6 separate regions of the Homo sapiens genome follow, and regions 2, 3, 4, 5 and 6 are each linked to region 1. Evidence: fine-mapped expression QTL. A gene starts in region 1. Each other region holds a variant in brackets. All regions are shown on one strand. Distances are between the middles of the regions. Region 1 holds the start of CAMK2D (calcium/calmodulin dependent protein kinase II delta). Region 2 has its middle 62 kb from the start of CAMK2D. Region 3 overlaps CAMK2D (calcium/calmodulin dependent protein kinase II delta). Region 4 overlaps LOC105377374 (a long non-coding RNA gene). Region 5 has its middle 47 kb from the start of CAMK2D. Region 6 has its middle 100 kb from the start of CAMK2D.

What was found. PIP is the estimated chance that this variant, and not a neighbour inherited with it, causes the effect.
Region 2: its variant is the best candidate, but not a certain one, in a credible set for the expression of CAMK2D in whole blood (INTERVAL, PIP 0.76).
Region 3: its variant is the best candidate, but not a certain one, in a credible set for the expression of CAMK2D in whole blood (INTERVAL, PIP 0.84).
Region 4: its variant is the best candidate, but not a certain one, in a credible set for the expression of CAMK2D in fibroblasts (GTEx, PIP 0.89).
Region 5: its variant is the best candidate, but not a certain one, in a credible set for the expression of CAMK2D in whole blood (INTERVAL, PIP 0.70).
Region 6: its variant is the best candidate, but not a certain one, in a credible set for the expression of CAMK2D in whole blood (INTERVAL, PIP 0.58).

What each region holds. Positions count from the first base shown.
Region 1 is chr4:113,759,339-113,764,442 of GRCh38, reverse strand. It overlaps CAMK2D (calcium/calmodulin dependent protein kinase II delta), which reads left to right and starts at 2,705. Exons shown (of 21, transcript NM_001321571.2): 1 at 2,705-3,439; 2 at 5,029-5,104. The coding sequence starts at 3,375. RefSeq lists enhancers at 1,438-1,976, 1,977-2,515 and a silencer at 2,509-2,918.
Region 2 is chr4:113,820,711-113,825,814 of GRCh38, reverse strand. No RefSeq gene overlaps it. Among named protein-coding and RNA genes, the nearest start is that of CAMK2D, 62 kb to the right of the region's middle. The variant T/C (reference allele first, on the strand shown) is at 2,822.
Region 3 is chr4:113,448,385-113,453,488 of GRCh38, reverse strand. CAMK2D (calcium/calmodulin dependent protein kinase II delta) reads left to right here. Exons shown (of 21, transcript NM_001321571.2): 21 at 1-2,457. Among named protein-coding and RNA genes, the nearest start is that of MIR8082, 300 kb to the right of the region's middle. RefSeq lists an enhancer at 653-1,200. The variant ATTAAT/T (reference allele first, on the strand shown) is at 2,873.
Region 4 is chr4:113,416,251-113,421,354 of GRCh38, reverse strand. LOC105377374 (a long non-coding RNA gene) reads left to right here. Exons shown (of 5, transcript NR_199847.1): 2 at 872-1,024. It also overlaps the pseudogene RN7SL184P and the pseudogene RNU1-138P. Among named protein-coding and RNA genes, the nearest start is that of MIR8082, 270 kb to the right of the region's middle. The variant C/T (reference allele first, on the strand shown) is at 3,060.
Region 5 is chr4:113,806,440-113,811,543 of GRCh38, reverse strand. No RefSeq gene overlaps it. Among named protein-coding and RNA genes, the nearest start is that of CAMK2D, 47 kb to the right of the region's middle. The variant G/TTG (reference allele first, on the strand shown) is at 2,332.
Region 6 is chr4:113,860,082-113,865,185 of GRCh38, reverse strand. No RefSeq gene overlaps it. Among named protein-coding and RNA genes, the nearest start is that of CAMK2D, 100 kb to the right of the region's middle. The variant C/T (reference allele first, on the strand shown) is at 2,987.

The sequences.
Region 1 (5,104 bases):
AGTGTTATTATGTTTATAGGTCTACATTTCTACACTTTTTAGAATTTATCTCTATTTTGTAGCTATTCCTGAAATGATGTTGAAGTAGAACAACAACAACAAAGTCTTTGATCTGACTATTTTTTTTTTTTCAGACAGAGTTTTGCTCTTGTTGCCCAGGCTGGAGTGCAGTGGCGCGAATTCGGGTCACTGCAACCTCCCTCCTTCTCCCAGGTTCAAGCGATTCTCCTGCCTCACCCTCCAAAGTGGCTGGGATTACAAGCATATGCCACCATGCCCGACTAATCTTGTATTTTTATTAGAGACGGGGTTTTGCCATGTTGGCCAGGATGGTTTCGAACCCCTGACCTCAGATGATCCACCCGCCTCGGCCTCCCAAAGTGCTGAGATTACAGGCGTGAGCCACTGCGCCCGGCTAATCTGACTACTTTTTAAGGAGGTTCAAACTTCAGAAATAACTGTAAATATTTGTTCAAATAAGAGAAATATTTAGTCTAAAATATAAATCAAAGAAAGGGTACGTACAGATTAAGCAGTGTTTGCTGTAAAAAATGTACACATTTATTGTCTAATAATACATCAGTATTAAAACTCAGTTATGTTTCCTTTATTGTACTCCACAATTATAACCATTTACAATTATTGGTAGTTTAAATAACTGAGATAAATACTGTAATTATGTAGACTTCATTACTTGAATATTTAAGAAACAATTTTCTTCCCAGATGTAAATTTTTATATTACCTTTATTGTTTTAATTTTACTTTTTCTGTTTCATTCTTAGATTCAGGGAAAAATATTAAATTATTTCATTATCACCTTGGAGCCACATTGCTAAATAGTTCAGATATTACAAATCTTTAGCCAAGACCAAATTGTGTTTTTTTTTTCAATTTATAGCCCAATTATTAATATTTAGAGACCATGTTTCTTTTATGCAGTTCTTGGTATCATCTTTTTCTATAGCACTACATTTTACACAGTTATTTCTTGCCTTTTACGGCTGGGAATCAAAACACATACGAACTTCAATTTTGTTGTAATAAACGTTAAAATTTGTGAACATTTTTAGTACTTCAGTAAAAAGCTCACTCATTGGCAGAAGCGTTCCCCAGATCAGGAAAAAAGGAATTAGGATTATCTATGACCACAAAGTAACATTAATTAATAGCAGTCTTTGGGAGCAAGCAGCAGCGCCTTTAAATCTTAGATTCTCTTGTGTCTGCAAATTATCTTTTATCTTTCAGCTGTGAAATTTTGTCTATGAAGTAATACCACGAGCAAATTAGCAATAGGATTGCAAGGTTTTTATAGTCCCGTGCTGTAGAACAATTGGCAGTAATTTGAAAAAGACCGTCCATAACGCTGTTTTTGGTCTGCGGCTAAATTTGCAATTGCATAGTTTCATTAAGGAGAACTGGAAAGAGGGCCCAGAAGTTGTTCTAGCAATCGGCAGCAGTTTATCTATTTTAAATCGTAATGCATACTTTTTTTTTCCTCCTACTGAAAACAATGGCAGATATGCTAAAGGGAAGGACACATTCTTGAACTGCTAAATGGTTTTTCCAGATAGCCATTTACGGAGTGCACTCAATTGCCACTATCTGGCTGAAAGCAAAAGCACACACGACGGCCCCTTTTCTTTTTTCCCTTTGCAAAGCGAAACAGTCTAGACGTGTTCACGTGATGTGAATGACGTCAGCCCCCGCCGGGTCGCGTGACCGACACCCAGCCTTCCTACTACCTCCCCCTGACCGCCAGAGTGGGAAATATCGCGAGAATTCGCCTTACTATCAGAACTTACTGAGGTTGCAGGGGAGTTACTCAGAAGGGAAGGGAAGGTGTGGTTGTGCGGCGGAGTTTTTGCTTTCATTCTTTTAACGTTCACAGCCAAAGCAAAGGCCTTTGGGGATTGCCAGAGTCTCAGCCACCATCCTGGAAAACAGCGGGGGAGGTGGGCCTGGAGGTGGCAAGTGTAATGTGGCTCAGGGGCCGTCATTGCCCCTTGCAGAAGGGGCTGCGGGGGAGGGAGAAAACCTGCGCCCGGTTCTGGGGAGCTGGCGACGCAGTGAACCCTGCTGAGGCTGGGTTTTGCCCCGACAGTCGCTGGTGGCTGTGGGAAGGGTTGGGACCCTTCTCTGAGAGCAGTGAACAGCCCACATCCGGCCCCTGCTGTGTCAACTCTGAGCGGCGTGGAGATGAAGTGGTTGCTCTCCCTTGCTCGGCCCACCGGGTGTCGTGGCCCGGGAACCGGCCTGGAGAAGTCCCTGCTGCCCGGCGCCCAAAACAGGGGCGTGGGCTTCCGCGACCCAGGGCGGCTGCCCCGGGCCATCCTCGAGTTGCCCTGCATCTTCCCGCTCAGTCAGCCCCAGATTGAGGCAGCCTTCTCTGTGCGGGTTTAAATGGGTAACTGTGACTTCTCGCCTCATTCACCCAAACCTCCAGTCTTCTCCCCCGCACATCCTCCTCCACCCACCTGGTTTCTCCCTAGACTGGTGTGCTCGTGTGTGCAACCAAAGGAGGGAGTGCGAGAGATCCACGAAGGGACAGGCTTGGAGTCGCTAGAGGGAGGTGTGGGACCAGCGAGGAGGGGGCTTCGCCAGGGAGGGGGTGCTGGCAGGCGGAGGGAGCGGCGGGAGGAGGCGCCGGAGGAGGAGACGGAGGCCTGGGGACGGCAGAAGAGGCTTCGCCTGAGCCGAGCGCTCTTTCTCTCGCCGCGCCGTCTTGAAGCCGCGCGGGCTCGTGAGCAGCGCGAGGCCGCCAAGGTGCCTCGCTTCGCCGGAGCCGCTGCCGCCCGCCGGAGGGAAGCCGGCCTCGGGCGCGCACGCTCGTCGGAGCCCCGGCGCGCCCCGCGCCTGAGCCTGCTGACAGCGGCCGCTGGGCTCAGGCTGTCCGCTCTGGGCTCCGCGGCCTCGGCCCCGCTGCACTCCACCTCCGCCCCCTCGGACTCCCTCCCCTCTGCTTCTACTCCTCCTGCTCCAGTGCGGATCGTTTCGCAACTGCTTGCCACTCGTCCCGTGCCTGGCTGTTTTTCCATTTCCCGGCCCCCTCTTCTTGAGTACTTTACCCCCTGCATTTGGGGACAGGGACTGGAAAAGGGGCGGGTGGAGCGTCCAGTGGAGAAGAAGGAAGCGAGGCCCGCAGGAGGAGGAGGATCGGCGGACTGTGGGGAGGAGACCCCACGCCACCCTTTCTGGTCATCTCCCCTCCCGCCCCGCCCCTGCGCACACTCCCTCGCGGGCGAGCTACTTTCGGACCAGGAAAGTAAGAGCGGCCCTGGGTGACAGCGCCGCGGGGCCAGTCCCGGGGTTAGCCGCGCGTCTGCTCGCTTCTGGTCCGTCGCGCTCCCAGCCAGGGCACAGCCCGGACCGAGGATGGCTTCGACCACAACCTGCACCAGGTTCACGGACGAGTATCAGCTTTTCGAGGAGCTTGGAAAGTAAGCACCTTTGCCCGGCATCCGCATATCCCCTTTCCAGCTGAGGGCGGGTCGCGTTGCCCCCGACCCACCGGCCTCCGTCTTGGGGCGAGGGAGTTTGGGAGAGGAATGGGAGGAGGGCCCCTGGTTTGTCAGCTCTGGGGAAGGTGCTGTCTTAATAAAGGGAGGGAGCACAGAAGGGGTAGGACCCTTACTCCAACTGTGGCTCATTTTGATGGTCCCTAGCCCACCTTCTCCCGGTCCCCCACCCTCCTGCACTGAGAGACTTAGTGAATTTACGATCTCTGCAGTTGTAGCTATCATCCTGAGAAGTGTGCGCGCGCGCCTGTGTGTAATGTGTGTTTGGAGAGGAAATTAGAACCCATGTAAAATGCAACATAGATCATGTTTTCTGTAAATAGAGATGCCTCCTGGTTAGCCGGCGTGTCGGCCGTATGACCCAGGTACTGATGAGAACTCACAGCCTCAGACGGTGCCATATTTATTGATGCCGAAAGTTCAACTTGGCATAGAGTCTATTTCGCATCCAGTAGTTGTTCTGTCCAGGAAAAGGGCCACCCAACAGAACCCAACCCCTTGCCCTATATCCAGTGTTGTTCTTTGCACCAGATTACCGCTCACCATCATTCTTCCTAGGATTTACGTGTGCATCTTTGCGTTCTCTGGGAGGATTTATTTATACAGGCAACGGAAAAGCCCTCTGGAGACTGAGAGCGCTCTTAAGCGTAGCCTAGCATTGTGTAAAACCACCTCCTTCACCCGACTGGCAGAACTACTTGGAGATGTTAGGGAAGGAGGCAGGAGACCTACTGAGGACTTATGCAAAGGGACCTAGGGGCCAAGCCGTGAATGCTGATTTTTGTAGCATGGAACCCAAACCCAATTCCTCTTTCACTAGTTTCGACTGTTACTTTTATGAAAGGAGTGCGTTTATATGTATGTTGTTGGTTTATACTGTAATTAAAGGAAAGGTAAATATTTTTAAAAGTAATAAAAATTACATATGTATATATTGTCTGGTGTTAAAACATGGAGAATATGTCGGAAGAGCAGCTTAATTCAAATCTCTCCCCTCCCCCAGTCCAAAACAAGGCATAGAGAAATCACCATACCAGGATTTGTTAAACCACACTAATGTGCTCAAGATTTATATTTTAATGAAAATAATCGTCATGTTTACTTACTTGGAACCACATTAATTTTTTGTTTCCTACCAAAATAAGTAGGCAGCAGATTTTTTTGCTGCTCCTCGTCTGCTCTGTTCTGTGCAGGGTTTTTCTCAGAGCATTTGGTGCTGTGAGTGTGAACTGTAAAATGTTTTCAAATTTCTTGTGCAAACAAGAGCGGTCATAATTGGCAGTTCCTTTCATTTTGTTGATTAATAATGTGTGCTCCCAGTTAAATAAAATTTACTTTTATTCTTCAACATTAAAGAAAGTCTGGGTTTCCAGGAAGAATTGTTCATTTACTGGATATTACTGTACTTCACTGGCAATCCACTAAAATCAATAAAAATGCTCAGATTTTATAAATTTTTAATGAAATATTATATCTGTTATATTAATGACCTGCTAATTATTGGTTTCCAGGGGGGCATTCTCAGTGGTGAGAAGATGTATGAAAATTCCTACTGGACAAGAATATGCTGCCAAAATTATCAACACC
Region 2 (5,104 bases), 61 kb before region 1:
TAAAATCCTTTAATGCTGGACTAAAAGTAAGCCTCTTTCTCACAACACCTTTTCTGAAAGAGAGAAGATGTGAAACTTGTCTTCAAATAATTAAAGGGCCATAAGATTCAGAAACATCAGGCCTGCTATTTTTAAGAGACACATATATAACAAGTAACAGAAAGGATAGAGGAAAATGCTTATGAACTGGAAATGGATGGAAATGTAACACAAGCTACTTTTACATTTACAAGTTACATTCCCCTCTGCTGTCCTTCATCTCATTTTCCCACTGGCTTTTCTAACTCATGCCATGGTAAAAAACATGTGTCACATATCAACCTATTCACAAAATAATCTCTCTGCTCTTTAGTTCTAACCACAGTTTCCCTGAAGCCTCTGCAGTGGAGGCTGCTGATTCTTTCAAGTTTCATGAGCCCTGGTTTAAGTTCTCGTTTTCTGTGGCAAATGCTGTTTCCTGCCTTATTCCACCAGTCAAATATAAAAATCTGCTCTTCTTAGATTCAGACTAGACAGCTATGTCAACTTTTGTACTCTGTTATTTTTTAGTGATTGCCCTGCATTTACTAAATGCCCTGCATTACTAAATAGAATGAAACTGGTTCATTCTATTAAGTTGGAAAACTTCAGAGTCATACTATATTGAGAGTTTTTCTCTTATCAGTTGAGGTGTACAGCTTCTAAGGTGAACTCATGATCCCCATTTTCTGGCATTCACATCTTTGTGTAATCCACCCCCCGCCCCAACTTTAATCACAGGGCGAGCCTGTAACTTACTTCTAACCAACAGATTATGGCAAAGATGATGGGATGGCACCCTAGCATATGTCTCCTTGCTGGTTTGATGAAGTAAGAAACCATGTTGGGAAAGCTCATATGGCAAAGAACTTCAGGTGACCTCTGGGAACTGCGAATAGCTTCTAAATGATGAGAATTGACTGTAGGAGCTCAAGGCAGTTTCAGCTCACAACCAACAAGAGGCCAGAGCCCTCAATCCTACAACTGCAAGGAAATTCTTCCAGTAATCCGAGTGAGCTTGGAAATAGATTCCTCAACAGTCAAATCTCAAATGAGAACACACTCCAGCCAACACATTAATTGCAGCACTGTAAGACCCTAAGAAGAGAATCCAGCTAGGCAGTAACTGGACTCATGACTCACAGAAACTGTGAGATAATTAATATCGTCTTAAGCCACTGAATTTGTGATTTGTAACACAGCAATAGATCACTAATGCAATAATTTCCCTTTGCATTTCTTTCACAACTACCCACTCTTACAGCTTTACCCTCCATCTTGTCATGCCCTGCAAACTAAAATGTCTGAAAATTTTAGCTAACATTCTCTATAAACATATTTCCTATTTATTCTTTGACTTCCAAGTTGAAGACTTCCAGTAACTTGGTCTTCCTCAGATATCAATCCCTCTTTTAAAAATAAACAAACAAACAAACAAAAACTTTCACAAGTTTCTGTCTTCATTCTCCATGCATCTTGGACCTGGCTGATCATCTGAATTTTCATTTGATTTGTACCATTGCTTCTCTTATACAATTATCCTTTCCTGTCCTTTCCAAACCAAATCACAAAAATGATAATAGTTGCATTATCAACACCGATCTCTGCATACATGAGCACTATTCAAGGAAGCCACACATTCATATTGACACCTTTACAACTTTAGTATGCAAGAAATTGCTTCTTAATCCCAAACTCTAATTCTGAAATCTTAGCCCCAGACACTTACAACATCCTTAATAGTTTTACTTTAATTGCTCATCTTGCTCTTTGTAAAACAAATGTATTTTTGTAAGAAATATGTAGATTATCCTGATTGCTTCAAATATAGTTTTCTGAGGGATGTTTAAAAAGATATGAATATGCTATTTTGAATTACCCTATTTGGACCTTGTTTTCACTAGTAACCCTGTTTATATTTGATATACAAATTAGCATTCATAGTCTTTATAAAGCCTCATTCGCGATATATTTAAATGCCCTGGAGTTCTTGTTTCTATGATACTTTCACCTTTAACAATGTTTTCCATAAGTTATTCATAAGTATTATTACTCAAAAGAAGATGTTGAATTTAAGACAACAAGTTTGATGCAAAAATGTGAAGACCTATTAGAAGAAGATATTATATATTCAACTTACTATATGTTGTACTATCCAGTTTATTTTTTCCCAAAGAGTATTGTTCAACCAATGTGGAGAAGGATTGATGTGAAAAGGGCAACGATTACTGAAAAGTACTATTTGTTTTGAGTTAGAGAAAAGGCATTAGGTAATAAAAAATCTTTTGAAACTGAATAAAATACTTTTAAGAAAGATATCCTCATAAGATACTTGAAAAGAAGAAGTGATTAGTCATGGTTTTTCAGAGGCATTCAGTGAGTGCGGTCAGTGGGTGAGGAAATTGAACTCTCAGTCTGACTTCTGGACCACTCTTTGACATTTGGCCTATCCTTGCTTAGCTGTACTTTACCCTAAAGAAATAATAATTATATGTGCCCCCACAATATTTTCCAAAATGCTTAACATCCTAAAACAAAGGATTCTAAACAAAAAAGCAACTTGATTATAAATATGGACAGTACTATAAATATCAGAGTTGAATATTTTCTGTCTCCAAGAACAGCTTTATTTAGAAAGTCATTATCTACAGATGGCCAAGAATAAATCTTATTAAGATGTGCATGTTTGACAGCATTAACACCCATCAGAATCCAGAGTATTGCATTCCACTGAAGTGAGAGAATTGATATAGTACTTGTTGCCTATGTTAACAAACAATTCATTGAATAATTAATTAAATGG[T/C]TGAGAACATTTTTAACTCGTTAGAGTTTAACTTCCAATGGAACATAATGATCAGTGATATTATTATCATTGATCTGAGCAGTTTAACCCTAAAGCACAAAGATTTTGACCTCCAACTTTCATCTTCTCTCTCCAGTATATCTAAGGCATTTCAGCAACTTGTCAGCAGTCAGTATCACTTTTCTTTTTCTACTTTGAGGGTGGCAACTTTAATTAAGTAGTTTCTCCTCCTACTTTCAGATGCTCTCTGTACAGTAATATTTTACTTGTGATTTTCTCAGCCCTCCTACTCATTCCATTAAAGAGTAAGCCAGGAGCATACTTTCTCTGACTCAAGTTTTTAGTTTCTCCTTTGTTTCTCTTGACAGATAAAGTTCCCTTATTATATGTAACACCTATGGTAATTGCCATTGCTCAAAAAAAAAAAAATCTGTAAACTCTTTTCTAAATGTTATGAAGACATGCAGAAAGAAAAGTTCTTCACAAAATACAGATATTACTTCTATTTTTTTTTCCAGCATTCTCTGAGGGGAAAAAAATGTAGAAAGCTTTTCACCCTGATGTCTCATTAATTCTGACAACACCCTTAGAGGCAGAGAAGTGGCGAGAGCCATTATTCTTGTTACAGTGGAGAAAACGCTGAAAAACCCAAAGAGGCTAGAGATCTTGTTGAAGGTGACACACAGTTATTGGGAACCTGCAGGGAAAAAAATATACACACAAACTTTAGGCTTCTGACTCCCAGGTATTTCAGTCCGCTCTTGAGTCTGCACATAGGTATCTCTTTATAAAGTCTCCTTTAATTTGAAATGGTACAAGTAATTAATTGTGTGGCAAAAACATGTGGAGTGACTCAAAACCTAGAAAAATCCCAAACAACACCAGACAAACCCCTGCATGTCCAAACCTGCCAGTATGAAATATCACATTTCTAAGCAAATATTCAAGGCATCTTAATGTAATGGGATGCCAAATACTAAGCACTGGGTTGCTAAGAATTTCTCCCCTCCTCCTGGTGTGCTATCATTCATTCGGAGGCTGGAAACCTGAAAGCTACATTTCCCCAGACTCCTTTGCAGTTGGTGTTCTAAGTGCAAACTAGGTGCTGACAATAAGGTGTACTTATGCAAAATTTGGAAGACAGAAGTGAGGAGGAGACCATCTCTAGGTTTCATAGTTTGCCGTTCCTAGCAAACATGGTGATGGACATGTTTAGTGCTTTGCCAGTCCAGCTGTACATTGAGGTGTCCAGCGCCAAGCTTCCTATCCTAGCAGCAGCAGTAGTTGTCACTTTCCAGCCCATAGATCACAGCTAAATGTTTCTGTGTCCTGCTTATGGGACATAAATGGTGCAACTAGGATAATCACAGACTTCAGAAAGGCTCAGAGTTAGGATACAGCTGCCTTTGCCCTTTATTCACTTTCTAGTTATTAGCAACTTAATTTCCCTGGTTAGGGAAAGAGAGCTTAGCTTTCTTCTCTGTAAAATAAGAATACCACTACTTACTTTGGAGGGTTAGGGTGAATCTACCTGGAAGCATCAAGCATAGTACCTTAGCTCATTCTATCTTTACCGTCCTATCTTTGCCAAAAGCCCCAAAAAAGCAGAAATGTTATCTGTTTGGTTCACCACTCCATATATGATAGGTACTCAATAAATATCTGTTTAATAAATAAATACTCCCATCAGATGTGGATGTAGGGGAGAGGTCATGTTTAAACATGGCTCACTGGAATCTGTCCATCTTGTTACTGCGTTTGTGAGTTTGTGAAGGGGATAATTTAGAGACTGACAGATGCTTCAGTGAAGTACACTATATTTATTCCCTATCTGGCAAATATTTAGTTCTTAGTACATGGCATCTTCTCATCATCTATAGCATCACTACCATAATCATCATCAATGGAGTGCTTTTTCCATTTTTTTAAATGGTGTTTCCCCGCACCCAATGCTCCAAATTTCTAATAACCACGTGAAGAGGTGTGTGGGTTTTTTTTTTTGTTTGCTTGCTTGTTTTATCTTCTAGGATTACAAATTATTCACCTAACTCTCAAATCTTGTCATGCTTAAGCCCTAGAGCTAATTTTTCCTGAGCCTGTCCTGCCCTAGTTAGGTCTAGAATATACATTAAATTTACTTTACTGAAAACCACAAAATAGCTCAGAACATATTAGAAATATGAGGACTATATTACAGGATTATAAGTTATCTCAAAGAACAAGGCTGCTGAATGCAACACAGCTTCTAGAAGGACTAAAATCCATGAATGTAAAGCCAACAGG
Region 3 (5,104 bases), 310 kb after region 1:
GGTATTTGCATTGTTTAAAGTTAGGATAAAAGCAAGTTCCTCCTGTGACTGCAACGTCTTACTGATTGGGACAGTTGCCAGGAGGATACCAACTTGATAGCAGAGGGGGTTTTATGCAAACGCACTCACCTCCGCCTTGGGGAATGAAAGGGTCACTTCTGCATCATCACTAGCTAGTTTTCTAGTGTTAGAGAGGCTTACAAATGTTTGCCATTCTCATAAGTGTTTTGAACTTGATCTTTGTGACTTGTGCTTTTTTAGCTTCTCTCTTGAATCAGAGTATCATTGTCTTCCTCCAAGGAGTTAGAATTTCCCAGTTTAAAACAAAAAGGGAAATGTCCTAGGTTTTCTTTGTGCTTCTCATTTTTCCTTTGTTGATTCAATTCCTGTGATTTTTGTTCTCTTCCCTGAAGTGCTTTACAGTGCATGGAATCTCCATCATTGTTATTTTAACGATAGTAATTCACAGTCCTCAGAAGCCTATTTTTAAAGCAGAAGCAAAAAAGAAAAACAAAATAACAAAAACAACCCTTCCTCTTTTCTCTCATCTCACCTCTCTGTGTTGATTACTAATCATCTTAGATATTATTGCTAGTGGATGTATGGTAGATGGGTTGAAGCTTTTCTGATAATTATTACACAATTTAAAACAACATATATATTTAAAATAAATATATACAGTAAATATATTGAGCCATGTTAACCTGCCAATGAGATCTGTGAAAAAATAATGGCCTCATTTTTCTCTTTTTAATTTCTTTTACCCTTTTGTGAAGCAGCTATACGTGGCATACATGTATTTAAAGAAAAAAAAATAGATGTAGAGTGTTTTTTTTACACTTTTAACTTAGCATGTGGTGTTGAAGTATTACTGTAGATCAAGTTTGTCTTCCGCACTAAGATGTGAGGAAATTGTGATTTGTTCTCTCCACCACAAATGAATTACACATTTATTATCTTCTATCATTTTGAAACACTGCAGTTTACCATGGGACACTGTATATATTTCTTGCCATAATGGTAAAGGACTGATTGATATATTTAAGAGTTAATAAATTTGTGATTTCTGCTGACAGTGCGTCCATCTTTATTTCTTCAGAAGAGGTACTGTATGTATGCCTGCATAGTGCTGGCCAGTGTCAAGGGCAGTGTGTCCTACTCTGGTCTCATTTAGTACATAACAATTTGCACTTGGTGAGAATGGCAAGTTAATTGTTCTCTGTGAGCAAAACAATGGTCTCTTCTGGGAAAATGTTGCTGAGAACAATATAGTTAACAACTAAGACTCCTAAAAGCTTCTCTAAACTGTACCCTCCAATCCAGCCTTCACATGGCTGCTTTTTTTTTTTTTTTTTAATACGAACCTGTCCTTGTAACACTTTGATGTTATCATTTCTGGGATACAGGCAAGCACCCCAGCTCCTGCTACTCCCCAGCTTGAACTTGAGCATACATGGATGCTCAGCTTCTTTTGATTTGCTAAAAACATCACACTTGCTCACATGCCTGTTTATGCTGTTCATGTTGTTTATGTTTCTTACCTAGAATAAATAGTCTCTTCCCCTACTTCTTTTCCCGACTTCTTACTTTTTCCTAAGATTCAGTGTACAGCATCATGCTCCACAGCAAACCTTCCTAGGCCCTATTCTGGGCTTGCCTTCCCTCTCAAAACCTACATAATAGATTGTATTTACCTCTCCTGTCAACCACATTGTTTTGAAAATATATTTCTATTTGTGTCTCCTCTACTGCAGTATAATGTCTCCATGGGCAAGAACTGTGTATTCATCATTGCATTCCTAAACCCAAACCAAGGCCAGGAATGGAGATATCATTGATAAATAGTTGTTGAATTGAGGCCAAGCCCTTTTGATAACAGAAGCCTCAAGGGGTACCCAGATAGTCCTTGTTTTAATGATGGGTTCTCTCACCACTGTCTTGATGCTCTGAGCAAGTTACCTCTTCCCTCTGACCCTCAGTTTCCATATTTGTAAAATGAGAATAAACATACCAACTTAATAAAGATATTGTGAGGATTAATGGGTACAGAGTGACTAGAATGATATTTGATAGAAATTAAATGGTAGCAGTATAACTATTCTGATCACTGACATTAATATTCCTATTGTTATTATTCTTTGCTCACGAGGGTATACAACTCTTGTTTTGCTGTTGGGCTGCCCTCTTTATGTAGGTTTACTGTTAATGCTGAGGATATACTCGGACTCAAATGTCTCAGCAGAAGGCTGAGAGACACCAAATGAAGTGGTCATCTAGCTGAATGTAGGAAAAATGAAATGTAGTAGCAAATCAGTATATTCTAAGGAAATTTTCAAGGAATATTAATCTTCACCCAAATTTTGAATTTTTATGTAAAAAATTATAATTTAAGGGTAAACATAGATGACACAGCTTTCGAGTGATTTCATTGAATAAAATTCTACTGACTTCTATGAACCTTTCATGGCTCTGTGGTCTTTTTATCAGATTTTTTAAAGGTGAGAATGTACAAAAAGATTACAATGAAGATCAGCGTACTAGACCATGTGTCCATGAACTGAACAACAGCTGTCATAAACCACCCTAACCTGAGAAAGCAGCAGGAAGCATTTACAGCATTCCTGCTTTTCTCTCAGACAAAACCAATTCTCAGAAGAGAGCTAGAATGTTCTCCTGCAGACTGGAGTAGGAAAAGTTGATAACAGATTAAGCAGTAATTGTACTCCAGAAGGATTTGCATTTAGGCTTTTGCTGCTTTACAACAGAAAAAAAAAATTCTTGTTTGTCCGTAAAAAGTGTTTTTATGTTTTTTTAAATGTCACCAACATTTAAAAATTGGATATGTCATGTAAAAGTCAAGATTTCTGGCTTA[ATTAAT/T]TTGAAAAAGTGTAAGGTCTGCCCCACTGGTTCTGTGTTCACTACAGCAGCAGTCAGAGAAGCTGCTGCCTGTTTCAGAAGGGAGCAGGCACTCCCCTATCCCCACCAGGCACACACATACTTCACATCTGCCCCATGAGTTTGCTGCTGGCTCCTGTGGACACTGAAGACTTTGATCTCTTTCTTTTTTTCTTTTCTTTTTTTTTTTTTTTTTTTTTTGACAGTCTCACTCTGTCACCAGGCTGGAGTGCAGTGGCACGAACTTGGCTCAGTGCAGCCTCATCCCGGGTTCAAGCCTCATGCCTCAGCCTCCTGAGTAGCTGGGATTACAGGTGCATGCCACCACACCCAGCTAATTTTTGTATTTTTATTAGAGACATGGCCAGGCTGGTCTCGAACTCCTGAGCTCAAGTGATCCACCTGCTTGACCTCCCAAGTGCTGGGATTACAGGCGTGAGCCATTGCGCCCAGCCAGCTTTGACCCCTTTCTTAAAGCCAAAGGGCACCTCTGTTGGCACCTCAGGCCCCAGTGAACAGGTATGGGCATTGGTTTGTAGAGGGATTGTTCTCAGCATCCCTAAAACCATGCTACTTAGGCAGCTGTCTTCTGCTGGGCCCCTGCTACTAAAATGCTTGTCATTATTTTTACTTTGTTTTAAGAAGAAAATCAAGGTCTACAAAAAAAAAAAAAAAGCACAAAGTGTTTCTATGGTACTATTTAATTTCTTAAAGGAAGATCTGCAGCTATTTTACAGTAAAATGAGTTTATTTTGTCCTAGTTTCAAAGTCTTCAATGGCCAAGAACTGTTGGGTAATTTTTATTGCTGAGTCTCTAGGCAGGACCAGGACAAATTGTGAAATACTTATACAAATTATAGTAACTTTCTATCTATAACCAGATGTTTAGAAACTGCTTTGGGATATAATGGTTTGCACTATGGCCTAACTCAATTGCTAGCACATAATGTAGTCTGGGCTTAATCTAAGTTAGCTCTTTACAAGGCTAGTAGAACCTAACTCACTTGCTCCTTGGACTTTCTCACACTCTTGGAAACTCACAACCATGGATACATCCTCTTATCTGCTTGGGCCATGCTCATAATCCTAAGGCTGAATGTAGCTGGAAAAACGTGCACCTATGCTGACAGGTCTTGTTATATATTCATGGCCATTGACCTGCCTCAGGTAAGCCCCAGAGGCTGCCCAAAAATCATATGTCCCTAATCCATTCTCTCTTCCAGTCTTCTGTCAACTATTTCAGACTTCATTTACTTTTCCCACCTCCAATATTTCTTCCCCTATTCTCACTCAGGTGAGGACCTTGCTGCTTATTTCACTGCAAGAAATGAAGTAATCTCTGCATCTCTGTGTATGCACCCTGCTATCTCTTTTATTACTGTTTGTAAATAGGTCATGCACCTAACAAAGGCCACCACCTCTGCTCACAAGTATTGCTCTAGCAACTCTCTTCACCTTGCCTTGTCATTATAAATAATTTCCTCCATACTAGTTGTATCCACCAGTGCCCCATTTCTTTATAGCCAGATTCCTTGAGAGCCTTGCCTAAACTGCTGTCTGAAATTTCTCTCCTCCCATTCTCTCTTAAACCCACTCCAGTTACCTTTACCACTCCACAGAACAGTTCTCTAAGTCACCAATGACTACCATGTTGTTAAATCAAGGATCCATTTTCTGTCCTCATTTTTACTTCATCTCTCAGCAGCATTTGACAGAGTTGTTCATTGTCTCAATCTTTAAACATTCTTCTTTTGTCATTCAAACAATACATTTGCCTGATTTTCCTCCCAGCTTTATAGATGCTCCTTCCCAGTCTCTGACTGGTCCTTTTTCATCAACCTGACTTTTACATTTGGAAGACTTTTTGTTTTCATTATTTTTTTTTCTGTCTGTTTTTGAGACAAGGTCTTGCTGTGTTGCTTAGGCTAGCCTTGAACTGGGCTCCAGTGACCTTTCTACCTCAGCTTCCTGAGTAGCTGGGACTATAGCACATGCCACCATGCCCAGCTTGACTTTTAAATTTGGAACTCATCTTCATTCTCTCCCAGGGTAATTGCATCTAATCTCAATGGCTTCAAATTATATTAATGATTCTTAAACATATCTCTCCAGCTTAGATCACTCCCCTAAACTCCAAACATATATATTCAGCTGCCTATTGGAAATCTACATTATACATCTACTAGGCATGCCAAATTAACATGTCATA
Region 4 (5,104 bases), 340 kb after region 1:
TGATGAGTTGAGCCCTTGTCATAATGAAACAATCTTTTTAAATCCATCCTAATATTTTTGGTTCTGAAATCTACATTGTCTGATATTAATATAAGAAATCTAACTTTTAAATATTATTAGCATCATGTGTTTTCATTATTTTACTCTATTTGTATGTTTATATTTAAAGTAAATTTTTTATAGACAGCTTATTGTTGGGTTGCTTTTTTATACAATCTCTGCCTTTTGGTTGGAGGTAGTTAGGCCATTTACATTTAATGTAATCATCAACATAACTGAGTTTAAATGAACAATTTTGCTATTAGTTTTCTAGTTGTTTCTTCTGTTTTTTGTTCCCTTCCTTTTCTTGACTTCTTTTGGATTATTATTTTTTAAGAATCCATCATATCTTCTTAGTGGGTTTATTTACTATAACTTTTTATTTGTTTTTTAAGTAGTTACTTTAGGACTTATAGTATATATCTTTAACAGTTACTTTAGAATTTATAGTATATATCTTTTTAGTATATGTCTTTATAGTATTTAGCATATATCTCTAGTATATATCTTTAGATATATATCTATATCTTAGATTTATAGTATATATCTTTAGCTTATCATAGTCTACCTCCTAGTAATATTATACCACTTCAGGTACAGTAAACTTTCTTTCACCACTGCCCCCACAGCCACCATCCATCAGCCTTTGTGCTATTGCTGTTATACATTTTATTTCACTAATCCCTATGAATTCCATTATATACTATTACTAAACAACATATTTTAAACAGCCAATGATTTTTTAAAGAGACTCAAAATAAGAAAAAGTGTATTTCATTTTTACCCTCTTATTTACCATTTCTAGTGTTGTTCTTCTTTTTTTTTTTTCCAGGGGAAAGCACAAACAAAATCCCCCACTACCACAAATTATGCAGTTGAGTTTCCCACATTTGGTGAAATCACAGGTGTCAGCACATCCAGAGTGCAATGGATAAGACTTGCCATGGGAAAACCATCTATGTGATCATGGTATCTCCCCTGCCAGGTAAGTATAGTATTCTTCAGTTCTTTGCTGATTGAATGTCTTCTGGCATGGATTATTTCTGAATCTGCTGTCATTTTTTCTTCATTCCTGTATATATAATGTATTTTTCCCACTCCTTTGGATGCTTTTAATGTTTTCTCTTTATCATTTTTTTGTTTTTGTTTTGGGTTTTCGTTTTTGGTTTTTTCTTTTTTTGAGACAGGGTCCTGCTATGTTGCTCAGGCTAGAGTGAGTGGCTATGCACAGGGGTGATTCCATTACTGATGAGAACAGCAGATTTGATCATCTCCATTTTTGACCTGGGCCAGTTCACTCCTCCTTAGCAACCTGGTGGTCCCCTGCTCCTGGGAGGTCACCATACTGATACTGAAGTTAGTGTGGACACTTGATTGGCATAGTGCACTACAGCCCAGAACTCCTGGGAACAAGCAATCTTCCCACCTCAAACTCCTGAGTACCTGGGACTACAGGTACATGCCCTCAGGCCTGGCTTGGTTCTTAATAACTTGATTATGATGCATGTTCATGTATTTCTCTGTTTCTTGTGCTTGGAGTTCATGAGTCACTGAATTTGTGGGTTATATTTCTCAACAAATTTGAAAAATTTTTGGCAATAATTTCTTCAAATATTTTTAAACTTTCTCCTATTTATACCTTGTATAGGGATTCTAATTACATGTTTATTAGGCCGTTTAAATCGCTCACAACACACTGATGTACTGCTCAATACTTTTTCAGTTTTTTCTCCGGGCTTTATTTTGTATAGTTTCAATAAGTTCACTTATTGTTTTTTCTGTAGTGTCTAATGTGTTTTTAATCCCATCCCGTATATTTTCACCCCAGACATTGTAGTTTTCATATATAAAATTCTTTCCAAAGTAAAAAGGTTTTCTAAAAAGTTATTGTCAGAGAGGGGCTATGAGAGTTTTTTATATCAATTGATAATCTTTTTTTCTTTTTTTGAGACAGGTTCTCACTCTGTCTTTCAGGCTGGAGTGCAGTGGTACAAACATAGCTCACTGCAGTCTTGACCTCCTGAGCTCAAGCAATCCTCCCACCTCAGCCTCCCAAGTAGCTGGAACTCCAGGCACATGCCACCACACCTAGCTGATTAATTTTTTTTGTAGAGATACAGTCTTACTTTGTTGCCCAGGCTGAAATAGATAATCTTTATCACTGATAAAGATACAGATCCCTGTTCTAGTTATATGTTTATGTATGAAGTTATCAGTGAATGCCATAATTAGTGAGATGGTATACCTGAAATCCACATTTCATAGCATAGCTACTAAAAATTGAAGCCAAGTGACAAATCAAGGTAATATTTGACAGTTAAAAGCCTTTATCAGAAAAAACACTCAATGGTGTGGCAGTACAGTTTATAAATATTGACACAGTTCAGATATGAAGCCACTGCCCATCAAATTATAAGATTCTTATATCCTGCAACTACATTCAAAAAGCCTTTCTAAACAGAGGCCTCAGTAAATGCAGTTCACTTCTACTTACAGCATTGAAGCCTTCCTATTTTTCCTTGCTCTATCAGCTGTCCAGCCTGAGATCTTAAAAATCTTTTTCATGATTTTTAATTGAGTCTGAAACAGACCCTGCTTTATCACCTAATGATAAGAGAGAGAGAGAGAGAGGAAGGAAGGAGAGGGGGAGAAAAAGAAGAAGGAGGAGGGAAGAAATAGAAAGAGAGAGGGCAGACAGGCATTTATTTTTTTTCAGGTTCAGTAGACATTACTTGATTATCTTAAATGCCACCTTCAAACCATACAATAAAGCAAATGTGAGAGAGATCATGGCGGATGGGAGGCAGAAGTAGATTGCGCTCCCGCTTGGATGGACAGAGCACCATGTGGAGGTTCACATCGTGAACTTTTGCTCCAGAACAACTGCAGAAACAAATCAGGAAAGCCAAGAGAACCCATAGACTCTCTGAAGGAAGCAGATTGCTCCTGCAGGACCCAGAATACACCCTAAATATTGTGCTGGTATCCGCAGTTTAGAGACCCATAGACAGTTCACAACA[C/T]AGAACTCTGTACAGACAAACCCCAGTACCAGCCTGGAGCCTGCTGAACTGCTGGGTGGCTGGATCCAGAAGAGAAATAACAGTCACTATAGCTCGGCTCTCAGGAAGTCACATCCCTAGGAAAAGGGGGAGAGTACTACATCAAGGGAACATCCCATGGGACAAAAGAATCTGAACAACAGGACTTGAGCCCTAGACCTTCCCTCTGACAGAGCCTACCCAAATGAGAATAAACCAAAAAACCAACTCTGGTAATATGACAGAAGTCTCTTTAACACTCCCAAAAAATCACACTAGTTCACGAGCAATGGATCCAAACCAAGAAGAAATCCCTGCTATACTTGGAAAAGAATTCAGGAGGTTAGTTATTAAGCTAATCAGGGAGGCACCAGCAGAAGGCGAAGCCCAATTTAAGGAAGTCAAAAAAATGATACAAGAAACGAGGGAGAAATTTTCAATGAAATAGATAGCATAAATAAAAAACAATCAAAACTTCAGGAAACAATGGACATGCTTATAGAAATGCAAAATGCCCTGGAAAGTCTCAGCAATGGAATCGAACAAACAGTAGGAAGAACTTTGGAGCTCAAAGACCAGGTTTTCAAATTAACCCAATCCAACAATTACATGGAAAAAAGAATAAGAAAATATGAGCAAACCCTACAAGAAGTCTGGGATTATGTTACATGGCCAAACCTCAGAATAATCAGCATTCCTGAGAAAGAAGAAAAATCTGTAAGTTTGGAAAACATATTTGGGGGAATAATCGAGGAAAGTTTCCCCCGCGTTGCTAGAGACCTAGACATCCAAATACAAGAAGCTCAAAGAACATCTGGGAAATTCAACGCAAAAAGAACATCACCTAGGTACAACAACAACAACAAAACCACAGACCAATATCCTTTATGAACATAGATGCAAAAGATGCAAAAATCCTTAACAAAATACTAGCTAACTGAATCCAACAACATATCATAAAAATAATCCACCATGATCAAGTGGGTTTCATACCAGGGATGCAAGGATGGCTTAACATATGCAAGTCAATAAATGTGATACACCATGTAAACAGAATTAAAAACAAAAATCACATGATCATCTCAATAAATGCAGAAAAAGCATTTGACAAAATCCAGCATCCCTTTATGATTAAAATTCTCATCAAAATCAGCATACAGGGGACATACCTCAATGTAATAAAAGCCATCTATGAAACACCCACAGCCAACATAATACTGAATGAGGAAAAGTTGAAAGCATTCCCTTTGAGAACTGGAACAAGACAAGGATGCCCACTCTTACCACTTCTCTTCAATATAGTATTGGAAGTTCTAGTCAGAGCAATAGGACGAGAGAAAGAAATAAAGGGCATCCGAATTGGTAAAAAGGAAGTCAAACTGTGACTGTTTGCCAGTGATATGACTGTTTACCTAGAAAACCCTAAATACTCCTTCAGAAAACTCCTAGAACTGATAAAGAATTCAGCAAAATTTTGGGATACAAAATTAATGTACACAAATCAGTAACTCTTCTACACACCAACAGCAACAAAGCTGAGAAACAAATCAAGAACTCAACCCCTTACACAATAGCTGCAAAAAAAATAAAATACTTAGGAATGTACCTAACCAAGGAAGTGAAAGACCTCTACAAGAAAAACTACAGAACTGTGCTGAAAGAAATCATAGACAATACCAACAAATGAAAACACAGCCCATGCTCATGGATTGGTAAAATTAATATTGTGAAAATGACCATACTGCCAAAAGCAATCTACAAATTCAATGCAATTCCCACCAAAATACCACCATCATTCTTCGCAGAATTAGAAAAAACAATCCTAAAATTTATATGGAACCAAAAAAGAGCACACATAGCAAAAACAAAACTAAGCAAAAAGAATAAATCTGGAGGCATCACATTACCTGATTTCAAACTATACTATAAGGCCATAGTCACCAAAACAGTATGGTACTAGTATAAAAATAGGCACATAGACCAATGGAACAGATTAGAAAACCCAGAAATAAACCCAAATACTTACA
Region 5 (5,104 bases), 47 kb before region 1:
CAAAAAAATGTCACAAGAAACTAGGAAGCAGAAGGTGTGAAAGGGAAGCTCAGAGAATTCTGTCATCATGAATACAGACTACTCTGCCATGGGATGATTTTCTAAATCAGATGGGTTTCTGAAGTTGGCAGAATGTTACCTAATCTTTAGTGAAACCACCTAAAGAGCTATGTTTGAGATGTTCCCTATTTTCAAGAACTTTGATATTCTTGTCATCTTATATCCAAAAGAAGTATAAAAGGAAATATAATGAATTGGTTCTTCAAAGAGACATTTTTAGATTTTATATAATAGAATAGGTAGAATAAAAAAGCATTTAAGGAGAAGTCCTGATTATATAACACTAAGTTGCTTTGCCAGCTATCTCCCTGAAATGCATTTTTCTAACACATTTGTTCCAAAACACTTTCCACACAATAAGTATTCATTTCAACCAATGTGGCGATGACTCTGTGGTTTATGTATGATGTAAGCATTCCAGAGTCCTTTCCAAAGTACTAATTTGACTCATAAAAACATTTTATTTTAAGTAGTTTTCAAAGAATAAAGGTTTGATTCTTGATTTTTGCTTCTAACAACTAGCATGTTTAAAATGTGTTCAAAACGCAACAATCAAATATTTTAACCTCTGAGGTTTTTTCTTCTTGCAAATTTCTTACTTAATTCAGATCACAAATAATAACATAATAAAGAAGTGTGTTAAAATATTGACCAAGGCAAAAGAGCCATCTTTTGTTAGACGAGGATAAAGAATTAAGCAATACTTTTTAAAGCTAATAAATAGTGCTTTTTATCTCTCAATTTTAAAAAGTATCCAGTTAAATGGCTTTGTTATTTAAATTAAGAAAAATGATGGCACACAAAAAGGGAAAAATGTCTTTAGTCGACAAAATGTTGGCTCATTTTGTTCATCAAGTTATTCCTTTCATGGCAATGAACAAAGGGAAATTTGGATTATTGAAGTGAGGGTTTTAAACAAACACACAGTGGAAAATGGGAGGATAAGGAATTTCTGACTCTCAATATTTGCTAACTTAAAATTTTAAATATAGGAAAACACTTCAACAATACTGACAGAGTTACCATCAACCGTGTATAATTTCTGCAAAATCATTCACCATCAAAATGCAATGCTTCTCCTAATGCTAGTATTCATTTCCAGAATGCAATTTGATTCAGAATATAATAATGCAAGAAAATAAATGATGAAGAAAGATACACACACACACACACACAAACACGCATACACACACACACACTCACACACACATACTCCTAAGGAGTGCAGTTCCTTGAAACAAGATTCCTGACAGTCAATACATTTCACATTATCCAATATCTCATAAATCTTCATCCAACTAATTCCTTCAATACTGAGAAGTAAAAAAATATATAGTAAAAAATGTTTGCACATTGTTGCAAATCATACTAAACATTTGCCAAAAAAAATCTGTAGGTCGGGAACTGCTGTTAATATCAAGATAATCACTACTAATGAGGTGATTATTCAGTGCCATTATAATGAGAACTGCTGTAATTTGGATATTATGCTTACCATTTCTCAAAACTATCAAAAGGTTTTCTGTTATGTATTACTCTAAAGGCAGAAAAGATCTTTTCTTTTTTCTCAAAAAAGAGTCACAAAGAATTATGTAAAAAAAATTTTTTAAAGGAATAAATTAGAATGTATTTTTAAACTTGGAATCTGTAACAATTATACCTAACAGTAGTAATTCGGACACTATGCTCTGAGTTCTGATTCATGTAATAATTTATTCTGACATATAATAGTTTTTCCTAAATTCACCCACCTTAAGACCTTTTTTCAAAGCACTTGAGTGAAAAAATATATATTCCCTGGAATGTTATGCTTCTTGGTGGCTTTCATAACTACTACTCTCTTTTCAAGGGAAACACGGGGAAAAATTGCATCTGCAAATTTGGTGTGGCAGATGAGACACTTTTGTGCCCAGGAAATGCCTCACTAAGATTATGCTAGTTTGGGGAATGGCCAAGTTTCTGATGGGGTGATGAGCATGGTGTACTTCCCCTAGGCGGGTACTCTGGTGATGTGACATTTCGCCATCAGCCCCACTTCAGAGCATGACCCGGAATGGAGAAAACTAGGGCTGTCCAGGCTTACAGTAAGCAGCATTCCTGTCTTTCAGCAGCAAGCTTTCTTCCTTCACTCTAACGCCTTTTTCTATTGCCCTTTTAAAGGGCAACACAGGAGGCAAAATGTTGCCATCATTGTTAGCTGGTAGCTATGAGAAAAGTTTTTTTTTAGTTTTTTTTTTTCTTTGAGAAGGGGTTTTTTTGTTTTTTTTTTTT[G/TTG]TTTTTTTTTTTTTGCTCTTTTGATTGGAGTTATTTAGGTCACGTCTAAATTGGATAATGGAAGCCAACATTTTGGTGATAAACTGTGGAGATACATATATATATATACATACACACATATAATTTTAAAAAAATTTTTTTACACAACCATCCTTAGAAAAACAGTTTAGTGAAGGCAAAAATTTTATCTCTACCTTTTTAGGGTTTTCAGCTGGGCCTGAGAATTAATTGACATAAGATAGATAACAGGAGAAAAGTATACACATTTACTGAGTATAAATTTTAGTTTTACATGACATGGAAGCCATCATGTGGAAATAAAGACCCAAAGAAGGAGTTAGAGTTGAATGCTTCTATATTGAATTGGACACTGAGTAGTAAATTACGAAAATGTGACAAGATGAAGGACTTGGGCTAGGGTAGTTAATGGTGAAAAGGGAACTAGGAAGATAAGGGTTAGTTTAACAAGGTTTGTTTGTACAGATTTTTCTCAACTCTGAGTCCCCATCTCTGCTAATGAGAATGTTATTTTCTTTCTAGAATGATGAGAATATCTTCTATATGGGAGTTCTGTCTCCTGCTTTTAGGGAAAAAAAAGGGGAGGTCAGAGTGACCTTCTTGTACTTGCTGTTTTTTAGGTGCCTTTAGCTCAAAATAATCCTCACGCCAAAGTGGCTTATTTTGGAGTGGCATATTATTACACACTTAAAAAAATCAATTTCATTTTATTTCCCTATATTTCAAAATCAAACAGATACTAGATGCACATATATATGAATACTGGTAAAATTATAAATGCAAGTAATATATTCAACTTAGACTATCACTTTAAATTGGCCTTTGGTTTAAGAAATAATTCAGATACATATAGTTCATTTAGTTTTTTAGCCATGTCCTTTTAAATTTGAAGTACTTTATGCTTTCTTCAAAATTAATAAATCCTATGAAAAAAGACAGAAGACCTTAAAGTCTCAGATAAATTTTAACTTAGAAATTTATGTATATGTGTCCAATTTCTTACATGATGAAATGAAATAAATGTGGAAGATATAATCATTAATGGCACATGTATGGCAGAACATAGAATCATTACAGTAAGAAATAATTTGCTATCTAAACTCTAAAACATATGTAGTCAGAGTTGAAATTTGCAATCCAGACATCACAAATAGTCTACAATTATCATTTTTAGCATCCTTGTATTTTTAGCTTTGGGTAAACTATAAACACATTTCAACTTCATGTTGCACTGCATGACAGTGGGCACATAAAGACATGATAACTTGCTGAACTCCTTCCTCAGAGAATATACTCCTATTCATGGCCCCTTTTTCTAGGTACCGTCCCATCCAACTATTCCTGGGCATCTCATACAGCCTTATTTCTGTCACTTACTCCACCACCCAGATCTCAGCTTTTATTCCAGTGTTGGACTCTGACTGAAGGGCATCCAGTCTATTGGCTGAGTGACACCAATCAGATTATCTCACAAGAATTTAAATGAGAGACAGAAATTGTGATTTGTCCGCAGAGCAGCCAATATCCTAAACCAAAGGAACAATTCCATCAACTTCCTTGCTGCAATCCTGGCTTCCAGCACATTTGTAGTAAGTTTCTGCTAGTTAATTTACTTTAACATGCTTTTAGTTAGAGATTTTTTAAAAAAATGAACATTGCATGTATCAAAGCTTATATTATACAAATTGCATGCAATAGTAGTCCTGAGTTTGCTACAGGGGAAAAATGGGTAACCTAAAATGATGCATCTCACTGAATATGCTATAACATGAGGGGAAAAGTTAGATACCAGAAATATTCACCAAATTTGAAAATGTGAAGATTTAGAGACTTAAATCAAAGAGAGGTAGAATCTAATTCTTATCCATAATGATAAATTAAGCTAGTAAAGAGTAGAAAAGCTGGTAAGGATGATGTAAATTTCCTCAAAAACCTTCTAGGGGGGGAAATACAAAAGAATACATTTTTTCACTTGTAAATATGTTGTATTGAGATTGAGTTAACAATTTTTGGGATCCTGCTCTGAAGTGAGTGCTTTTAGAGGTAAAAGTTTTAAAGAGAACAAAATTAAAGCTTAAAGAAGTGTGGTGACTTTCTCATCATCTCAAAGCTAGTAAGAATAGAACTGAGATTCATTTTCTATTTCCTGACTTCAGGTCCAATATTTCAATGTTCTTTCTATTTTTCTTACAGTGATCTAGAAAGCTGTGAGGCAGTGACAGACTATGTAATTTTTTTCCTTTTTGGTAGTAAAAACCTATTATCAGCTGTCACATAGCTTTATAGAGCAGATGAAAACATTTCTTTAAATGAGCCTAATACCCTTGTTTTATACTGAGAAAAATTAGATTTACAGATGTCAATTGATCTGTCCCTGTGGACACAGTTAGACAATGGTCAAGATTACAGGCCAAGTGTCAGACTTGTAGTCCACTACCTCCCATTCATCTAATTAACACAATACTAGTTATTGATGTTGACATGGACTTTTAATTCTTTTAAGACAGTGTGGATATAGGTGTCATACATCTGATTGATCACTTACTCTAATGCATTAGGTATAATCACAGTAAATAAAACATATAGAAGATACACACTCCCTTCTTAATTATGTCACACATAAAAGAAATATTGACATTTGACAATAAAATGCAAATGAATTGACTGGCTCCTTTATTCTGTGCTTAACTAGACTTAAGATAGCTGCAACAGAGCAGGTTTTCATTGCTGCCATCTCAGACCCTATATCAGGAAC
Region 6 (5,104 bases), 100 kb before region 1:
TGGCAGAGTTCACTCAATCCAATGAAATTTTAAAACATCTCAAAGTAAACAAAGCCAGAGAGTTCATCAGCTAATGCTGCGTCATAAGGTTATCTGCATATTAGGTGATCCCAGTGGCTACAGAACTGACTTTCAGAAACACTAGTGCTTTGAGAAAAAATGCGAACCATATTATGACTTATAAGATAAATACTGAATGTGTTCTGGGACCAATTTTCAATTTTAACTTTTTCTAATAACATTATCTCAAAGATTCTCATTTCCACTTCTCTATCACTTAGTAAACATTGTACTGTCTTCAATAGCAATCATTTTATGACTGAAAATTATGATTAAACATATTATCATTTTATAATTTAACAGTTACTAGCACCCTTTATATACATATATTTGTATACGTAAAGACGCTAGCAACTGTTATATATTTATACTTAAATATTTATTTTATATATTTAAATATATACTTACTTATATATTTATATATGTGTACGTACACAGATGCTTCTTGACTCACAGTGGAGTTATTTCCTGATAAACCTATCATAGTCAATAATATCGTAAATCAAAAATACATTTAATGCCCCAATAAACCTATTGTGAAGTCAAAAAATCATAAGTTGAACTGCCATAAATCAGGAACCATCTATGTATAACATACATATATATTATATATAACATATATATACACACACACATATTATATGTAACATATATATATATATATATATACACACACACACGCACATATCAAATCATATAAGCAGCTCCCATACTCATAATACAATGTGCCAGGCTCCCTTTTAAATACTTTATATATATAAATTAATTCTCTCAACAACGCTGTGTAATAGGTACTATTATTATCCCCTTTTTACTAAAGAAGAAACTGAGAAACAGAGAGGTTAAGTAACTTATCCAAAGTCATACCTGTTGTAGGTAGTGAGACTAGGATTTAAACCCAGGTGGTGCAGTATCAATACCCACACTCCTAACTATGTATAAAGGATATTTTAAGAGATTATAATTTCATTTGCAAATAAGGGAAGGACTTTAGTAAATAGTTAGTGACCAGCCAACAACAACAATAAAATGCTAACGTAAGGCATCATTCATTCTTAAATATCTGACCAGGAAATGACATGGTATGTGTTTGCCTGTAGGTATCCTTGTGTCCTTTTGTTTGTTGCATGTGAGATAATCCTAAAGGCAGGTTAGGCAGCACTTTTTAGAAGAAGATTAGTTATTTTTTAAGGAACATGTACTGTCTATCCATTTAGTTGAGAACTGGAAATTTTTTTTTACTTCCTAAAGGGATTTATAGACCCGAAGTATCTTTAGACATTCTCTTCACTTTGACATTTTTCATGTATTCAAATGTTTATATCTCTCAGGATTTAGTAGTCCCCCTACATTTCTTATAAATTCTTCCCTACTCTTAGTATGTGGATCAATCTTTTTCTCATTTTAGTTCCTATAGCACATATAGAATGTACCATTCATTGGCAAGTAAATGTTTCTTGTCCTACGAAATCTTCTTCTGTCTCATTTTTAAATCTCATTTCATAGTTTGAATTCTTATCTCTTTAGCTTGACTGAAAACTCGGGGCTTCTACTTTTTTCCATAATGCGTAGAATATTATAAAATAAATATTTGTTGATACGATTTTCATTAAATGAACTTGGACAAGCTGTTTATTTAGCAAGTGCGGAATTCATGCCACAAGGAGACTAAGTTAATTATCTATGATTGCACCAATATTTTTTAAATGATCAAAGATTACATTTCCTCACTCTTGATATAATTCCTATCTGCTTATAGATCATGCTACTTCTGCATTTGCAAAATAATTATCAGTATCTCAGTCTTTTCTTCACTCTGTACTACAAAAAAAGAAAATATATTATAAATCCAGTTAATAAACATTAAATGAAAACAACAATGATTGAACTTAGCACGGAAATCTGGTGAAACCTACAAATGCCACTTCTATGTCACTATTTCATAGAATCATACTAAACAATTTTGCCTATTCTTTTTCTTGGGATGTTTTAATAGCCACTCATGAAGTTGGATGTATTAGTCAGGGTTCCCTAGAAGGACAGAACTAACAGGAGACATATCTGTTTATTTATAGATATAGATTATAGTTATTTTTATTTATAGATATAGATATCCTATTTTATATATATATATATATCCTGATAGAGTTTATTAAGTATTAACTTACATCATCAGAAGATCCCACAATAGGCCGTCTGCAAGCTTGAGGAGGAAGGAGAGCCAGTCCAAGTCTCAAAACTAAAGAACTTGAAATCCAATGTTTGAGGGCAGGAAGCATCCAGCACGGGAGAAAGATGTAGGCTGGGAGGCTAGGACAATCTCGCCTTTTCAAGTTTTTCTGCCTGCTTTATATTCACTAGCAGCTGATTAGATTGTGTCCGCCAGATTAAGGGTGGGTCCGTCTTCTCCAGCCCACTGACTCAAATGTCGATCTCTTTTGGCAACACCCTCACAGACACACCCAGGATCAATACTTTGCGTCCTTCAATCCAATCAAGTAGACAGTTTAACCATCGCAGTGGGCAACTAACAGTTATATAACATTCTCCTCCATTATGGTAAAATTTCTAAATGAGAAGTCACGCCTTCCTCCTTCACTAGCACATGGGAGCCTGGTGCCTAATCTAAAGGTGTAAATAAATATTTATTAATATCAAGTGCAAAATGAATGAATAAAGACCATTTACATTGAGAACTTCTTCATGTATTATTTTTAGTTCCTACAGAAATGCTCTGGGATGGTTGCTGTTCCCATAAAAAGAAACAAACTGAGAGAGGTTAGCTGAGCTGCCCCTGGTTACAGAACCACTAGAATTGAAGTCTGTTTGCATTCTACAAGCTAACCTCACCTAGCGAATAATAGCTCCGAGCAGCCCTCCGTCTTGGCTTTTCCAGTTTGTATTTGAGTCCTTCTGCAACCACCAA[C/T]TATTTTTTCTTTAAACTTCACAGGTGTCAAGAGCTCACATTTTGTATTATTTTAGGTAGTTGTGAAAGGATGTATTTTGTTACAAAAATTTAGTTGAATCTGTAAATATTCTGGACGAAATTCTTACAGTACAAAGATCCCTAACCTGAGAGTGTAGTCCTATCTGACACTGCTACTATTTAGTCATAAGTCAAGCTTTATATTGAAAATTAGGAAAAGAGAGCCAGGATTGTGTACTTTTGTAAAGAATTAAAAGATATTTAATAAATACTTGACAGATAAATGAATTGATAAATTATACTGAGGTTCTGGCCTTGAAACTATTTGACTTATGAGATGACTTATTACTGGGTCAATAACTAGTGAACTACCTAACGTAAAAGATGGTTATTTTATTTTTTACTTTATTAGAATACTTGTACTATATATTCAAATTCTGAGCAGGAATGTTAAACATTTCTCCATTTATCAGGTCTAAAACTTACAGCTAAATGAACTGAAAGAAGTATTTCAAAATCACACTTAGGAATAATGATTCCTGAAAGCTAAATCAAAAAGGATTCACTATAATGAAACAAAATAAGTAAAAATTGTTCTTAGGACATTAAATCTAATTTTTCTTTCTTTTAAACTACATTATTAATTTGTGTAAGTTTGGGACATTAAATTGAAAATATACTGTATATACTAAATTAGACATACTAAATATGCTAAATTGAAGATATACTAAAAATAAAGGACATTAGGTTTAGGACATTAAATTTAAAATATTTTAAAATAAATATACTAAAATATACTAAATTGAAGATATATTAAAAATAAAAGGTACCTAAAATTGTGTAAAATGGTGGTTTCATTTATGTCAGAGCATTTGAATGTGAAATTTTGTTCTATTTGATGTTACATTATTCCTTCTCATTCTTATTTTATATCCAACAGCCTAACCTTCAGTACCAAATGACCCTCAGGCAAGAAAGATGGCACAGCAAAGTAATTTGTAAAGTAAAACTAACTTTTAGTGAATTCTTTAAGGAATTCACTGCTTCTTAACATTTAAAATTAACCTTTTCATGTCACACATTATTAAAAGCAAATCCAATTAAATTACATAGCTTCTGTAAAGTAATTTCCCCTTGGACCTAGGTGCCATTTCTACCTCTCCAGGGAAAATGATATTTTTAAAAATTAAAATTAATACCAAACTTGAGAAATTATCATTTTAAACCTGTGTAATGCAAATATATATTTTGTATTTGAAACTATAACTTTCTTACACATCCATAATTTAAACAGCTCCCTTTAATCAAAAATACCTAAGAACATGACCTAATTCCCCCATACAACCAAGACATGGATAACCATCAATGTAGAGAGTATCTAAAGAAATCTTATAATTACACTCTTATTTTTTAATATTTAATTTCTCTTTTCTTTTGGAGTCATTTTTTTAAACAAGAGAAAGTAGGTAAAATAAGATGATGAATAAAATGAAGAGATGGTAGCAATAAAGTAATGAAGGAATTAATGTATTTTAAGCCATATGAAAGGCATGATTTTCTTTAAGTGTTTAATATAGAGTTAGTAGGAAGATTAGTGGTTGCAGGGTTACAAAGAAAAGAGGGATGAATAGTTAGAGCATAGTGGATTTTTAGGAGAGTGAAACTATTCTGTATACTACTATAGTAATGGATATATATTATCTACATTTGTCCACATCCACAGAATGTACAAAACCAAGAGTGAACACTAATGTAAACTATGGACTTCGGGTGAAAGTGATGTGTCAATGCAGGTTCATCGATTGTAACATATGTACCACTCTGGTGCTGGATGTTGATAGTGAGGAGAATGTGCATGTGTGGGGGCAGGGGCTATGAGAACTCTCAGTAATGTCTGCTCAATTTTGCTATGATCCTAAAACTTCTCTAACAGAGAAAGTATTTTTTTAATATTAAAAACAAAGCAATGAATCCTAAGAGATAACGTTGGTCCACAGACACTTTCCCCTTACTCCCTTTTCTGGGTCCTGAGTAGGAGATTATCCTGAGATACAAAGGATCTCATATTCCATACTTGAGATCCAGAGCAATGCTTACTTTGCAACAGTCATGCATCCT